2 linked regions of the Homo sapiens genome follow. The protein of the gene in region 1 purifies or fractionates together with the protein of each later gene. This does not show direct contact. Each region holds a gene or a part of one and is shown in the gene's direction. Other genes may lie near its edges.

Region 1 (4,532 bases):
TATAGGCATGAGCCACTGTGCCCTGCCCAAGAATAATGTTGATGAGAGGTGGGTGATGTTTGGTAGGGTAGATTGGGGCCTAGTTAGTTGTATAGGTCCTTGAATGCTAAGCAAAAAGATTTAGCAATGAGAAGCTATAGTATATCTTGAGCCACAGAATATTCTTGAGCAGGAGTAATAAAAAATACTGTTTTGTGAAAATTAATCTGATGGGGAGGAGGTAATAGAGATGGATTATGGGTGGGTGGGAGTGAAGAATTAGATTTAGAAAAGAGATCATTTAGAAACCAGAGTAGTCATCCAACTATGAGATGATAAGAACTTGAATAAGGGTGGAAGCAATAGGAATGGAAAGAAAGGCATAGATTTGTAAGACAAAGAAAAAAAATAGAAAGTGGTGGCATTATTAGATGGGAAAAGGAGGAAAGTCACCAGTCTCGTTGCTCTGTTTTAGGATCCGTGAGGTTCATCTATCTGTAGTGCTTCTGGCCAGAGAAAAGGCCGAAGAGAGAAAACCCTGAGGAACATCTTTGACCTGCATAGAAACTTATCTGAAGATTTTCAGAATCTGAGCCTCACCCTCAGTCTATCCCAGTTTTATCCTGACCTGTCCACATCTGTTATACTCCAAGGCTTGCTGGGCCCAACACTGGAAGCTATTTAATGTTTCTATTGCGACTGGCCTTTTAAAGCCAGTGGGATTCTCCATGCTACACTTGAGCCTGGAGACTAGAAAACATGACAGCCTGTTTTCATTAATCCGTTTTCATTAACTGCTGTGGTCTGAATGTTTATGTTGTCCACAGATTCATATATTAAAATCCTAACTCCCGGCTGGACGCAGTGGGTCACACCTGTAATCCCAGCACTTTGGGAGGCTGAGGCAGGTGGATCACTTGAGGTCAGGAGTTCGAAACCAGCCTGGCCAACATGGCAAAACCCCGTCTCTACTAAAAATGCAAAAATTAGCCAGGCATAGTGGCTGGGCTAATCCCAGCTACTGGGGAGGCTGAGGCATGAGAGTCGCTTGAATCCTGGGACTGGAGGTTGCAGTGCCCCAGGATCATGCCACTGCATTTCAGCCTGGGCAACAGACAGCGAGACTCCATCTCAAAATAAATACGCAAATAAATAAAATAAAATCCTAACTCCCAAAGTCATGGTATTAGGAGATGGGGCATTTTGGGGGGTGATTAAGTTTTATGAGGGCAGAGCCTTTCTGAATGGGATTCATACCCTTATAAATAGGCCCAAGGGAACTCATTCACCCCTTCTACCATGTGAGGACACAGCAAGAAGGTGCCATCTATGGACCGGAAAGCAGCCCTCACCAAACACTGAATCTGCCAGCACCTTGATCTTAGACTTCTCAGCCTTCAGAGCTCTGAGAAATAAATGTCTGTTGTTTATAAGCCACCCAGTTTGATATTTTGTTCTAGCAGCCCAAACAGACTACAACACCTTCCCTGGGCTCGCCTCAGCTTCTGTTGTGGGGCAGAGCATAAGGCAATTTGACTAGGACCCAGAGGATGGGTAAGCTTGGCTGAAATGATGGAAATGTGATCATCTGAAAAGGTCAGAAAGTTGGCAGTTTGCTCAATTCGGCATGCAAGGTAGGGAGACCAAAAGCCCCCTCCTTTGAAGGCAATGGCTGTAGCTGGGGCCAGAAGTGATGTCACATAACCACTGCTGAGGTCATAGAATCTTCCCTCTCCTCCCTCTGTCTCCTCATTGCCACAGCCAACCGGCTCCCACATATCTGCACACACTTAAATACAAAGGCCGGGAAGGGTCAGACCACCATCCGGGTACTCTAAGGTACATAAAAGAGGTAGGGGAAAGAGAGGATCATTCAGTAGGTAGGATCCACACTGGTATCTCCAATGCTGGGAATGGGAGACTCATGCTGTAGTTGCGTAGGTGCAATGGGAGCTGGGAGGGAGAAAGGAGAGAGCAACAGGGAAGAGGGGAGCTGTTCCTGTTGCTGACTGATTTTACCATAACACTCATCCTCATTACTCCACAGTCCTCCCTCCCCCTTCTCCTTCACCCCCAAGTGTCTCCCACGACTGCCCTCCCCGACCTCTAGCTGACCATGGCATCAGAGGCAGAAAAAACATTCCATCGGTTTGCTGCGTTTGGAGAATCATCAAGCAGTGGCACTGAAATGAACAACAAGAACTTCTCCAAGCTGTGCAAAGACTGTGGCATCATGGATGGCAAGACAGTCACCTCCACGGACGTGGACATCGTGTTCAGCAAAGTCAAGTGAGGAGCCAAAAATATGGAGGTGGGGGTGAGAAGAACCTGCGAGGTAGTTGGCCACGGAAGGGTTCACGTGGTGGAACATTTGCAGTGGGCCTACCAAGCACCACAGGGTACCTGGCGCTGTGCTATCCTTTGTCTTCGAGACACTCACTGATTGATAGGACAAAAGAGGCCAAATCTGAGTGAGGCAAGAGTTGGACCTTGGAAGGTAATGCATTCATGCTCCAAAGTTTCTGGATTTCTGTCTAACTGACCAGGGCCAAGAACGCCCGAACCATCACGTTTCAACAGTTCAAAGAGGCAGTGAAGGAACTGGGCCAGAAGCGCTTCAAAGGGAAGAGTCCAGATGAAGTCCTGGAGAACATTTATGGACTCATGGAGGGCAAAGACCCAGCCACCACTGGCGCTACTGTGAGTGACAGCCTTCATCCCCTTGACCCTACTTCCCTAAATCCCCATTGTTCCAGTCTACCCTCCCTAACCCTGCCAACTGTGTGACTGTAGAGACAGGGCCGAAACAGACTTTAGAGATCATCTAGACATTCCAGAAGTCAGGAAAATGTGGCCCAGAGAAGGGAAGTGACTTGCCCAAGGTCCATGGCTATTTTAATAGTAGATTTAGACTAATTTCCAAGTGTCTAGTATCTGAGCCAGGCAATTAGGGCTTGGTAGCTTTTGGAGGACATTAGTGTAGAGAATTTGGTACCTGATGCCCACTCCTCTTCCAATTCTTATTTAGGGTTTAATCTCAGGCCTCCTGCCTCTCACCTACTCCCTTTTTTAATTGTCCTGTCTGAACTAAAAGCTCTTTCTACAGTGGATATTGAGTCGGGGAGTGGGAGTGAAGTCCTCAGGCAGCAGCCTAGTCAGAATAACTCCTCTGGAAACAAAAAACCTACCCTCCCTCTGCACACGCCACACTCATTCCCACACCACACTCCTCCTCCCCCATGAGTGAACGGCTCTTACCAGAGTACCTGCCCACAGCTGTATCTGGGCCCTAAGAAAGCAGCACCCCATGCCAGTGGCAGAGCAAGAGCTCCAAGCACTTGTTCTAAGTATCTCGGGCCATCTTTGGGGAAGGGATATGACAGCGTAAGGAAAGGAAGAGAGCTCAAATCCATCCCTGGCTTGCAGAAAGCAACAACAGTGGGTGCAGTGGACCGTTTGACAGACACCAGCAAGTACACCGGCACCCACAAGGAGCGCTTTGATGAGAGTGGCAAGGGCAAGGGCATTGCGGGACGGGAAGAGATGACTGACAACACAGGCTATGTGAGTGGTTACAAGGGTTCTGGCACCTACGATAAGAAGACCAAGTAGAGAGGAGCTTCATCTCAGCCTGCTAGCCCCCTGACCCTGCATGTTTAACACCAGGGAGCTTGGAAAACAATAAACATCTGTGTGTGCAGCAGCCAAAATCTCTGTCTGTGAGGGACAGATGAGCCTACTAGTGTAGAGAGAGGGAGAAGAGGCAGCACAGGAGGGTGGGTTCTCCACCACACACCCTTCGCTCTGCTTAGCCTTATGCCTACCAGCCATCAGTTAGCATTCCTCCTCAACAGCTGCTTCCAAGAACAGGATGGAAGAATATATTTGGAGTAAAGAGATGAACCAGATGTGGAGGTAAAAGTATCTACTACTTGTGTTCACACATTACTGATATCCACCTCTCCACCCCCACCCCTCAAAAGGGTGTAGCAATTCCTCACGTGATGGACTATGACTATATCACATATTAGATCCTTCCCTGTCCCTCCACCTTCCTCATCTGTTGCAATTCAGGTTTTTTGGGTGGAGGAGTAGAAGCCAGCTAAGGTTGCCTGACTTCTATTACAAATTTGTTCCAGAGCTGGGGTAAGGGGAGAGTCTATTTTCAACACCCAGCCCAGAACTAAGTTTTACCCCACATCACCTCCATCATGGGGCACATGGGACAGAAGAGCTTACTGACTGCTAAGGGTAGCTCAGGAAGATGGCCAGATGAGGCAGGCTGCCAGGATTCCAAGAGCAGGAGTTCTGGTGCACTGAAGAAAAAGCAATTAAATCACAACAGAGTCAGATGTGTGTTATTAACTTTTTATTTTGAATTGATTATGGGTTGACAGGAAGTTACAAAAAATGGTACAGAGGGGGCTCGTGTGCCCTTCACCCAGTTTCCCCCAATGGTTACATCTTACATACTCAGATGTGGTTTTAGAAATTTATGTTCGATTAGAGCCGGGCCTGCCTCATTCGCTGCCTGGTCAGGGGCAGACTCTGGA
Region 2 (3,486 bases), on another chromosome or scaffold:
CTGAGGCACGAAAATTGCTTCAGCTTGGGAAGTGGAGGTTTCAGTGAGCCGAGACCCCAACACTGCACCCCAGGCTAGGCAACAGAGTGAGAGAGTCTGTCTCAAAAACACACACACACACACACCCACCAACAGAGTGAGAGAGTCTGTCTCAAACACACACACACACACACCACCCCCCACCCCCCCACCCCCAAGGCTAGGCAACAGAGTGAGAGTCTGTCTCAAAACACACACGCACACATTGCTAAGGGCTTTATATTATTTTCTATAGTTTGCTTTATTTGGTTTAACTTAAATGTAACTTGTCTCTTAAAAATTACAGATCATTGAATATGAGAAAAAGCAAACCCTGGGACAGAATGATACCGGCTTTAGTTGTGATGGGACAGCTAACACATTCAGGGTCATGTTCAAGGAACCCATAGAGATCCTGCCCAATGTGTGCTACACAGCATGTGCAACACTCAAAGTAAGAGTCATGCACTATGTTCCAGATGGTTTCCTCTTGAATGTTGCAGAATGTGTGTTTTAGAAGCTGAGAGTCACTGACAGCTGAGCCATTTATAAAGAGGGGGGAAAAGAAGCTGGGAGCTAAAATATTCCACTGCCTTCCGAAAAGAAGTACTTCTCCCCACAGCTCTGTTCTGAAAGAAATAGCTCTTCTTAAGAAGTAGCCCTTTGTTTCAGTAAGCAGTTGAATGTTTGGCAGAAAATAAAAGTTATTTTTGTAAAATCTTTTCACTATTCTCTAATAGCTGGGCTGTACATTCAGTATTTTTATTCATTAATTAGTTTTTTGGTAAAAACTTCATTTTTCTCTAAATGACAGCATAAAATTTTATATAGGAATGATAGTGAAATATAATGGAACATTAATCTAATTAAAACACCACATTAAACTGAGTGCTTATTAAATGAAAATTACTAAGGAACCTTTTGTTCTCATTTAGGGTCCAGATTCCCACTATGGCACAAAAGGATTGAAGAAAGTAGTGCATGAGACACCTGCTGCAAGCAAGACTGTTTTTTTCTTTTTTAGTTCCCCTGGCAATAATAATGGCACTTCAATAGAAGATGGACAAATTCCAGAAATCATATTTTATACATAATTTAGCATTATAATACATCTTGGCTAAATAATACCATACAATCTAGTGTCAAAAACATAAATGGCCACAAAAAAGTAGTTTGAGTGTTATGAATATTTAAAATTGTAAGATAAGAAACAGTTTCTTAGAGCAGATAGAAAAATGCTTATTTAAATCTTTGCATGATTTAAAAACAGATTTTCCATTTTCTTACAACTTTAAGAGAAAAGAACTGGGTTTAATGGTTTAAAAAAAAGCACAGCTTTTTCACCTTCATCTTGTATAATTTCATAGATTGGCTGACTTAGGGTCTTTCAATAGTTTGGGAATTGAAAGATTCTTGTTATATATAGCTAGTTTGGGTTTGTTTTTGTTTTAACTATTTTGAAGGTTAGGTGAGATGGGCAAATAGGCTTAACTATTTTGAAGGTTGGATGAAAAGAGATGGGTCAGTATTCCTACAGAATTCTTATTAACTCAAATAACTAAATTTCAGAAAATTAAGAAGCTGACTTTATATTTGGTGGTTTGAAGTATCTTGTTGTTAGCATTTGTAATAATGCTAAAAAAGGCCTAATAAAATGCCCAAGAAAATATTCAGTGCATTTATAGAGAAGGATATTTTGTAGTAGTATAGTAATGTGTTATGTAGTACAGTTTTAAAGCTATAAATGGAATTTTGTGTAAATTCACAAAAATGTGATATAAACAGGATCTAAGACTGGATTCCCTGTCACTAAACTGCACCACTATACCTGTCTCTCTGTGTGGGGGACACTGCTGATGATTCCCAAGATTGAGATGATGACGGTGATGACGACTGGGTGAACAGCCATCACTTCAACATTGTGATAATCCTTCACAGCAAGAAACCGAATAAAATACTAACATTTCTAACAACTGCTCTGACATTGTAAAGAGATCCAACAGAATCACTCCTGCTGAAAAATACGCTTTCTGCCACCTACACATTTCTATTTAGGAAGTAAAATTTGCTTCATGGTCATGACCCCATTAGTCAGTGTTACAGCTGTGTTGGGGATAGGAAGTATATCTGGCAGATTGATATTTATACACTTTTTTATAAAGCAGATTTTAAAATATAGTAACATCCATTTTTTTCCCTTGAAAGTGATTCTCTTATAAAAAATGAAAGTGGAGTTTAAGGTATATCAAATCGTTGTGGAAGGTGATTAAAAATCAAAATTCTTTTAAATATCAACTTAATTTTTTCTAAGTAAGATACAAAAAATTTTCATCTAAAGTAATATTTCACTTTATATTGTAAAGAAGGTAGGTATATTGGTGGCTGAGGTCTCTTGAAATTGCTAAAGGGAAATTTTTCTATGGTAATGCTCTTACGGATATAAACCTCAGTTAAATGGAATTATCTATGGGATGTGTGGTTCTGGTTAACTAAAAATTAACCAGTAAACACTCTGTAGTAACCATTACAGAAAATACTTCTGCCTTAAAAAATATGATATGCCAGAGATGAGTTAGTGTTTCTTGACGTTGGAGACCTTTTAAATGCCTCATCTGTTGTACTGAACAATTGAAACTGCATGCAGCCATAAAAGGGACAAGAAACAGAACTGTTTACTAACTTTGGGACATCCCCTGGAGTTTTTAAAAATAAATAAATATATATATATATAAAAAAAACTCTTTTATGTCATTTGCCTTTTTCTTCTAAAAGTGAATATAAACAGAATTTTGATTTGTTTTTTGTTTGTTTTTTGAGATGAAGCCTCGCTCTGTTGCCAAGGCTGGAGGGCAGTGGTGCAATCTCGGCTCACTGCATCCTCCACCTCCTGGATTCAAGCTATTATGCGGCCTCAGCCTCCAGAGTAGCTGGGATTACAGGTGCCCACCACCACGCCCAGCTAATTTTTGTATTTTTAGTAGAGATGGGGTTTCACTATGTTGGCCAGGCTGGTCTCGAACTCCTGACCTCAGCTGCCTTGGCCTCCCAGAGTGCTGGGATTGATTACAGGCGTGAGCCACCACGCCTGGCTGTCAACACCATTTTGGAACAAAGGTTCTAGTTAATTGAGGTTTAACTTAATGGGAGTAATGCAATACAAAATACAAATACCTCATTGCTGATTTAAACCAGTTCATAGGAACTGCAGTGATAACTGCCGCAGCCTTTTGTTTCTTGATCATTTCTTGTGGCCTCAGGTTTTTCTCCTGTTCTAATCAGGAGGTGGAGGTTGAATGTGGGAGAATCCAATAAATAATCTTATTTACTGTTAAGAGTGTGACTATCATCTTACAGCTGTTTATTAATAACTACCCAAGTGACTACTAGGCTCTGCAATGAGTACTTTACTACATTCTTACTTGTTTCTCACAGCATCAGTATGAGGGAAGTACCCATTTCACAGGCAAA

The links.
Region 2: the proteins of TPPP2 (region 1) and BTBD1 purify together in Homo sapiens (affinity purification with mass spectrometry; one large-scale study listed by BioGRID and IntAct). This does not show direct contact.

Annotation. Positions count from the first base shown.
Region 1 is NC_000014.9:21,028,487-21,033,018, forward strand, and holds TPPP2 (tubulin polymerization-promoting protein family member 2), read left to right. Parts: upstream 1-1,730; 5' UTR 1,731-1,818; intron 1,819-2,026; 5' UTR 2,027-2,095; coding exon 2,096-2,268; intron 2,269-2,525; coding exon 2,526-2,679; intron 2,680-3,405; coding exon 3,406-3,591; 3' UTR 3,592-3,833; coding exon of another isoform or gene 3,834-3,881; 3' UTR 3,882-4,329; downstream 4,330-4,532. UniProt on the Homo sapiens protein: Probable regulator of microtubule dynamics required for sperm motility. In contrast to other members of the family, has no microtubule bundling activity.
Region 2 is NC_000015.10:83,015,693-83,019,178, reverse strand, and holds the end of BTBD1 (BTB/POZ domain-containing protein 1), read left to right. Parts: intron 1-325; coding exon 326-472; intron 473-953; coding exon 954-1,112; 3' UTR 1,113-2,756; downstream 2,757-3,486.